Regions from separate parts of the Homo sapiens genome. Here region 2 is reported to be linked to region 1. The links are microRNA targets in miRTarBase. Many come from high-throughput screens and were not tested one by one. Region 1 holds a microRNA gene; the other region holds the end of a gene's coding sequence.

Region 1 (4,385 bases):
CTGGACATGGTCACGCCCAAATTCACAGACACAACAGCCACACCTTGAAACACACACACACACACAACAGCAGCACAAATTTTGACATGGTCTTATCTGCTGACAAGCCAGCCTCAAATAAAGTCAACAAAGACACACTCATTTTATTTAAGTAATGTACATTTTATTTAAGTCATGTGATGGATTTTCACAGAATACATATGCCCAGGGAACCAGCACCAGATTACACAACAGAACTGGATCAGCTCCCAGAAGCTCTCCCCTCGTCCCCTCCCAACCCTAAGGGCGATCACTATCTTGACTTTGGTGCACTATAAATTAGTTTTGTCTGGTTCTGAACGTAATACACCTGGAACCATCTAGTATGTACTGTTGCATTTGGCTTCTGTCACTCAAGATTTCATCATGCGACTTGTCTATGTTGCTGTGTGTAGCCGGGCATGTCAATCCCGTTGCTGTGTCTATGTGCATGGTAGTGAGTAGGGCATCATTCATTTTCCATTCTGTTGATGGGTTATTTCCAGTTTGGGGCTGTTATGAAAGGGCTCTGAACATTCCCATGCACCCTCTTGATGCTCACACCTACACATTTCTGCTGGGTGTTGACAGCCTAGGAGTGGAACTGCTGGATCACAGAGGTGGCATATGTTCGGCTTCATTAGAAAACTGCCAGTTTTCCAAAATGTCTCTACCAATTTACACTCCCCCAGAAATACAAGAGAGGTCCAGTCGCTCTACTTTCTCGCCTCCACACGGTGCGGTCTTTTTCACTTTAGCCATTCTGGTGGTGGAGACCCACTCGTATTCGCAGCGCCTGGAGCGTAATTGGCACTCAGTTAACAAGACTGTTGAATGAATGGATGACTGAGTAAGTTGGGCGGTGTAGACCAACAGCCTGGCGAGGGCGGACACACGCACGCACTCCACACACAGCGTTTCGCGGACACCCACCGCGGCTCACGCAGCGCAGGACACAGACCCTGTCGCGCACCCCGCGCCCACGTGGTCTGAACACACGGCCTCGGCCCTGCCTCGCGCGTCCGGTCGCAACTCCCGCTCTCCGTCCCCAACTCGCGCGTCCGTCCCCAACTCCCGCTCTCGGCGGCGGGCAGGGGGCGCTGAGCGTCCAGGCGCTCCAAGGGGGCGGGCCCGGGTCGGGGCGGGGCCGGCCGGGCTTCCAGGCCTGGGCTCTGGCCGCCCGCGCCACCGGGCCGCTCCGGGGACAGGCCGGGGCGGGGCGCGGCGGCAGGAAACGGGGCGGGGACTTGCGGAGGCGTTGGGGACGAGAGAGGGCGCGGCCAACTCCAGGGGGGACGGCAGGCCGAGAGCGCGGCGCCCGGGCCTGGCGCGGAGCCTGAGCCCGCCGGACGGGAGGCGGCCCCGCCGCGGGCTCGGCCCCGGCCCCAGCCCCGCCAGCATGGCCGGCCGGACTGTACGGGCCGAGACCCGGAGCCGGGCCAAGGATGACATCAAGAAGGTGATGGCGACCATCGAGAAGGTCCGGAGATGGTGAGCGCTGCTCGGGGGCCAGGGACGGGACACAGCGGGACCACCAGCACCAAAGGCGTCTACGCTGCCCTCGCCAGCTCTGGGCCCCGGGTGTTCGGTGTATCTCCACCCACTAGCTTTGCCCTGGATCCACAGGGCTCTGTCCCCGTTCGCCTGGCTACTCCTGGGGGTCTACAAAGCGTGATCCCCAGCCGTGTCCTCCCAGAGCGGGAGCCCCCTCTTGTGCCCCGCCCCCTAAAGCTTTGACACCCCTCCTGCAGGTGCGCCCCAGGATCTGCAGGGCTCTGATCCCGGGCCAGGCCCATAGCCACGCCCCCCATGTGTGCCCCAGGGGTCCGCAGAGCCAGGGCCCCAAATCATATCCTCTCTCTAGAGGCACCCACCGCCTATGCCCTGGGGTTTGCAGGACTCTCTTCCTCCATGTAACTATGCCCCATTAGCAAAACTGTTGCTATCCTCCTGTGCCTCCTCAACCTCTGCAGGTACCCCCAGATGTGTCCAGCTCCTAGGGGGGTGGGTCTCCCCTCAGGCCTCTCTGACCCAGCCCCCCACCCTCCCACAGGGAGAAGCGATGGGTGACTGTGGGCGACACTTCCCTTCGTATCTTCAAGTGGGTGCCAGTGGTGGATCCCCAGGAGGAGGTGAGCAACCCCCATTCCCACAAGGCCCTGCATCTGTGCAACCTCAGGCAAGTTCCTCCCCACGCTGACCTCTACCTCCAGCTCCCCGAGACCTCAGATGCAGCAGGACAGACGGGAACCATCATTAGCAGCTCCTCCCCTTTTGCCCTCTTTTCTGCTCCACACCCCCTGAGTTTGAGCCCTTTTGCTTCTCAGTGCCTCAGTTTCCTTAGGTGTATGGTGGGGCTTTCCAAGAGCTCTGACCCTAATCCTCTAACCCCCAGGAGCGAAGGCGGGCAGGTGGCGGGGCAGAGAGATCCCGTGGCCGGGAACGTCGGGGCAGGGGCGCCAGTCCCCGAGGGGGTGGCCCTCTCATCCTGCTGGATCTTAATGGTAGGTAGGGATCCTGAAACGCGGGGGGCTGTGGGGACTGAAGGAGTGTACTAGGGATCTCAGGCCAACCATCTCGGCTCTTGCTCCCGCAGATGAGAACAGCAACCAGAGTTTCCATTCGGAAGGTTCCCTGCAAAAGGGCACAGAGCCCAGTCCTGGGGGCACCCCCCAGCCCAGCCGCCCTGTGTCACCTGCCGGACCCCCAGAAGGGGTCCCTGAGGAGGCTCAGCCCCCACGGCTGGGCCAAGAGAGAGGTAGGACCAGGTACCTCCCAGGAGCTCTCTCCTCTAAGTCCTGTCTTCTCCAGAGTCTAACCTACCAGCTCATCCCTATACCTGCTCCCCGTCTTGTGCACCCTCCTCAAGGCGCCTTCCGACTCCTGCAGAATCTCCCTGTAGCTACAGTCTCATTCCTCTGGTCTCTTAGAATCTATACAGACATATCACTGTCTGAGATTTTCATGTAAATTAATTTTTTACTAGTTTATCTTTCTCCTCACTCTCATGTCAGTTTCCTGAATGTTGGGCCCATATTGATCCTTTTTTTTTTTTTTTTTTTTTTTTTTTTTTGAGAAAGGGTCTCGCTCTGTCACCCAGGCTGGAGTAGTATAGTGGTGTGATCATAGCTCACTGCAGCCTTGAACTTCCTGGGCTCAAGCGATCCTCCCGCCTCAGCCTCCCAAGTAGCTGGGACCACAGGCATATGCCACCACACCTGGCTAATTTTTGTATTTTTTGTAGAGATAAGGTTTCACCATGTTGCCCAGGCTGGTCTCAAACTCACTTGCTCAAGCAGTCCTCCACCTTCAGCCTCCCAAAGTGCTGGGATTACGGGTGTGAGCCATCACACCCACACCCGGCCCTCCCCCCCCTTTTTTTTAGAGACAAGGTCTCTGTCACCCACGCTGGAGTACTCTGGTGCAATCATAGCTCACTGCAGCCTCAAACTCCTGGGCTCAAGGGATCCTCTGGCCCCAGCCTCCCAAATAGCTGGGACTCAGGTGTGTGCCACCATGCCCAGCCAATTCTTAAATTTTTTGTAGAGGTAGGGTCTCGCTATGTTGCCAAGGTTGGTTTTGAACTCGTGGCCTGAAATGATCCTCCTGTCTCAGCCTCCCAAGGTGCTGGGATTATAGGCGTGAGTCACTGTGCCTGGCCCTATGTGATCTTGTTCACTACTGTATCCTCAGAATAATATGGGACACATAGTAGGTGCTCAGTAAATATCTGTTGAGTGAATAAATAATAGTGATAGTCATAGGGGTGATTAACAATAATAGGAATAACAACAGCTAGTATTTATTGAGCTCTTACTGTGTGCTAGGTGCCCTGGTAAACACTTTACGTGGTTGGGTTTTTTTCTTTTCTCTTTTTCTTTTCTTTGAGAGAGTTTCGCTCTTGCCAAGGCTGGAGTGCGACGGCACAATCTTGGCTCACTGCAACCTTCACCTCCTGGGTTCAGGCAATTCTCCTGCCTCAGCCTCCTGGGTAGCTGGGAATATAGGCATGAACCACCATGCTCGGCTGGTTTTGTATTTTTAGTAGAGTTGGGGTTTCGCCATGTTGGCCAGGCTGGTCTCAAACGCCTGACCTCAGGTGATCTGCCCGCCTTGGCCTCCCAAAGTGCTGGGATTACGAGCCACCACGCCCAGCCTTTTTTTTTTTTTTTTTTGAGATGAAGTCTTGCTCTGTTGCCCAGGCTGGAGAGCAGTGGTACGATCTTGGCTCACTGCAAACTCTGCCTCCCAGGTTCAAGCGATTCTTCTGCCTCAGCCTCCCATGTAGCTGGGATTACAGGCATGCCACCATGCCCGGCTGATTTTTGTTTTTTTTGTTTATTTGTTTGTTTGTTTTTGAGACAGAG
Region 2 (3,585 bases), not on the chromosome of region 1:
TTGAATCTGACCCCCGCCTCCTCCCCAGCCAGGCACACCTATGGCACCATGAACAACCAGCCGGAAGAGGGAGAAGAAGAGAGTGGTCTGAGGGGCTTTGCGAGGGAGCTAGACTCGGCCCAGTTCCAGGAAGGGCTGGAACTGGAGGGCCAGAACCAGTACCACTGACCGGGACCTGAGGCCTCCACTGGCGACTTGTTGAGGGGTCAGGGGAGGGCCTGGCAAGGGGAGGCAGGAGGGTGGCCTGGACCTCCCCACTACCTCCTGCAGACTTTGAGAAGCCCACAGTGGAGACATCCACCACCCCAGCCATGGGCCATACGGGGGTCCTGACCTGCTGCCCGGCTGGAACTGGGGGTGCTCGGCAGTGCTGAAGGAGCCTGGGAAGGGATGGGAGGATACAGGCAAGCACATGTCTTGAGAGAGGTGGCTGGAGCCCCGGCACAGAGACTGAACGCTGGGGTCCCTTCCTGGGACCAAGATGGAGAAGGTGTTCCTAAGGGAGGAGACAGAAGGAGGCTGCCGAAGGCTCTGTGGGGTCATCACCACTCTGCATCAGCTGCCCTTCCAAGGAGCTTCTGCTGCTGCTCCTCCTCCCAGCCCCGGCCCATTCCTCCCCTGCAGTCTGAGGAGGCAAAGGTATGTGCACGGGGCACATTGACAGGACACGGAGGACCACCTCATCACAGGGTTCCCTGCATGGGGATCTGTAAAGAGAAAGTTTCTGCACCCACCAGAGCAAGAGCCAACTGAAAGCGTAGACCTGAGAAGAGGTAACTCAGCCCCTTCCTGCTCCTCTGCCCTCATCAGATGTCCCCAGGAGCAGCAGGGCAGAGGCCCTTCTTTCTATTCTTACAAGGGTAGCTAGAGCGTGATCACTCAGGGCTCATCAAATGAGACTCGTGTGCATTTTTCAGAAGGAAACCTTGGTTAGTCCTTGCTGGGTAACACAAAGTGGGGTGAGACGACAGAAGCCGAATTCATGGAAGGGGGGTCTTCTCCCCAAAACTCTGTGTGGTGGGAAACCAGCTATACCTCCCCAAGCCCCAGGGCCTAAAGAGAAGACCCCCGAAGCCAAAGATGTGGCCACTTAAAAGCGTCTCCTGCCTCCTACCCAACTGAGTGCCTGGGCCCCCAGCTTGGCCAAGATGGGCAGTACGTTAGGGTAAGAACCCCATGCTTCAAACTTAAGGACTGACCATCACCTGCGTCCCAAGTAGGACCCTTCCTCCCTTCTCGGGGCTGCCCCTGCACCCTGCCTTGAAGACCACCCAAGCGGCCTCCAGTGTGGGCCTGGTCCAGACATTGCAGATGCTTCAACCGTGATGTCGCCCCAGGCCTGCCAGGGGTGTGGTGGAGGGGAAGGCCACGTGCTCCAGGGAGAAGCCCTTTCTGGAGAAGCAAGGCTGTCCTCCCAGGGCTGCCACTACCAGAGACCTGGGGGAGCTGAATTCCGAACAGTGATGGTGACACTCAGCACCTTTGCCACAGCCGGGGGGAACCGGCTTCTGCCTCTGGGATGGGCTCTCATCAGGACCACCGTGCAGCCCAGCCAGGGAGGACATGAGAAGGGCCAGTGGGGGCCTCAATGAACCAGAACAAGCCAAGCTGAATGGGGTCTGTGTGCTCCAGGGCCCTCTTCAGCCCCCTCCCCCAAAGGTCTGGGTCCCTGCCACCAACCTACTGAAGGCCGGCCCCCGGCTCACCTCACCTGAGCACCTGCACCAGGCCCCAGGCACATGGCTGCCCTGAACTCAGATCACCTAGACCTTGTCCCTGCCCCACCTTTGCCCCATCCTAGCCCCAGAAGCTCCAAGCTTCACCGCAGGTGAGAAATTGTGCTCAATGGGCAGAAACTGCTATACCCCCAGGGCATGGCCCACATTTTGGCATGAGGGTGTCTTTCCAGAGAGCTTGGGTTGGCTGGAGAGAGGCTGTCTTTCCCATTCCTTGTCCAGCTAGGAATAAAGGGGAAATGGTCCTAGCCTGGCCCCTACACACCCAGGTCCCACAGGCCCCCTCCCCACTGGAATTTCACCAACCAACAAGGGGAAAGTACGCTGTTACAGCATAGCGGTCAGGCCCAGCAGGAGCTTGGCACATGATGGGGAGGTGGCCAGCTCCAGGCCCTGCCCGACCCCATCATGTGTATTTGGTGTATGGGGTGTGGGGGGTCACACCAGAAGCTGGCCTGGGGTCTCTTCTTTGCTGGACACAGCTCCCTGGCCCCTGCCCCCAGCCCCTGCAGCCCCTGCCGGACTGTGGAAGCCACATATGGGAAAAGTCCTGGCAGACAATGTGGCGGGATGACTGGGGGCTTCTCCCTCTGAACCTGGGTCCAGTGTAGCCTGGCTCTGAGAGAAGGTGGTGAGCATGTGGAGAAGGTTCCATAGTCCACTCTTAGGGGAACCAGCAAAGCCTCATGGCAGTTGGCTCCATCTGGACCTCCCATGGTCACTACAGGATGGTGGAGCAGGGGGCATCTTTTAGCCTCCCCCCGCCACCACATCCAGGCCCTCTCAGGCACCTCCTGCCTCAGCCCACACCTGCCTCACCCATTGCCCCCCTCCCCCCACCTACTGCCATCCCACTCCTCTGCCAGCCACTTCCCAGCCGCCCCACCCCACTCCATCCACCAAATCACCTCCTGACTTAATCCTTTCTGGAAGGAGCTGCCGCCCAGGAACCGGTATTGCCTAGAGCCTCCAGGAGGGGCCCTCCTCAGGCCTCCAGTGGCCCCATGCCCACCTGCCTGACCCTCCACTGCCCCTGGAAGCAAAGTGCCTATCAGCAGCGTTGCGTCCTCTGGGGCCCCCGGTCGGGGGGGAGGGGGTGTGGGCTAACCTTGGCCACCACCACAAAAGGAATGTGCCAGAATGCTGAACCTTCTTGTTAATGCTATGACCGTGCCTTGAATAAACAAGTCCTCCCAACCTCTCCTGGCCCCTGCCTCTCTGCCTGTGCATCTGGGCCAGCCTGGCCTTGCTCCGCTGTGCAGTGGAGAGAACTTTCTGGTCCTTGAGCTACCCAGGAAGCCAGCAGGGCAGCCCCGAGGAGCAGCAGAAGTCTCTGGTGAGTGCTGAGCCCCATGAGCAGGCCACTGGGCTAGGCTAGTGGCCAGACTTCAAAACACACAGATTTCAGGTGAGGCCCCAGGAAGAGCGGCAGACAGGGCTCAGGTCTGCAAGAGGATGAGGGTGGGGGACTTGGGGGATGGGGGAGGTGGAGGAGAGGTTGGGTGGAGGAGAGGTTGGCACGAGGGAAGTGTGTGGGGCAGCCAGGTGGGATAAGAAACACCCGTTAGCAAAGGCTGTTATAACTGTGGCAAGGAGACAACAGTTCCCTGCCCTGGCGGACACATCTCAGGGTCAGGAGACTGGTTCTGTCCCTTCCTCCAGCAGCTGCATGACCCAGGCTGGTCACCTCATCCAGACAGTAGGGCTGGGAGGACATGAAGCGGACTGTTCTGCTTCGTGACTGAGCAGAGCAGATTTGAGGGCAGAAGATGGGAATCTTGTGGGTGTGTTGAGTAGGGGGAGACTTCCTCCCGCAGTGCTCCCTATGGGGACAGAGGATGACAGTCTC

Evidence for each region. The annotated mature microRNA hsa-miR-762 reads GGGGCUGGGGCCGGGGCCGAGC and lies in region 1 at 1,390-1,411, opposite strand. An mRNA with a match to its seed (bases 2 to 7 or 8) in the 3' UTR can be bound and repressed. Matches are read on the target gene's strand: a 7mer-m8 pairs with bases 2 to 8, a 7mer-A1 pairs with bases 2 to 7 and ends in A, and an 8mer does both.
Region 2: the mRNA of TMEM63C is a reported target of hsa-miR-762. Seed matches in the 3' UTR shown: 7mer-m8 at 597-603, 7mer-A1 at 1,545-1,551, 7mer-m8 at 2,236-2,242 and 7mer-A1 at 2,537-2,543.

What each region holds. Positions count from the first base shown.
Region 1 is chr16:30,890,977-30,895,361 of GRCh38, reverse strand. It overlaps MIR762 (microRNA 762), which reads right to left and starts at 1,459; the gene lies at 1,377-1,459. It overlaps BCL7C (BAF chromatin remodeling complex subunit BCL7C), which reads left to right and starts at 1,285. Exons shown (of 6, transcript NM_004765.4): 1 at 1,285-1,509; 2 at 2,072-2,150; 3 at 2,414-2,522; 4 at 2,615-2,776. The coding sequence starts at 1,418. MIR762HG (MIR762 host gene) reads right to left here. Exons shown (of 3, transcript NR_110942.1): 3 at 142-814. RefSeq lists enhancers at 1-84, 1,828-2,157, 1,696-2,328 and a silencer at 968-1,447.
Region 2 is chr14:77,256,559-77,260,143 of GRCh38, forward strand. It overlaps TMEM63C (transmembrane protein 63C), which reads left to right. Exons shown (of 24, transcript NM_020431.4): 24 at 1-2,937. The coding sequence ends at 168. LOC124903351 (a long non-coding RNA gene) reads left to right here and starts at 3,261. Exons shown (of 2, transcript XR_007064276.1): 1 at 3,261-3,585.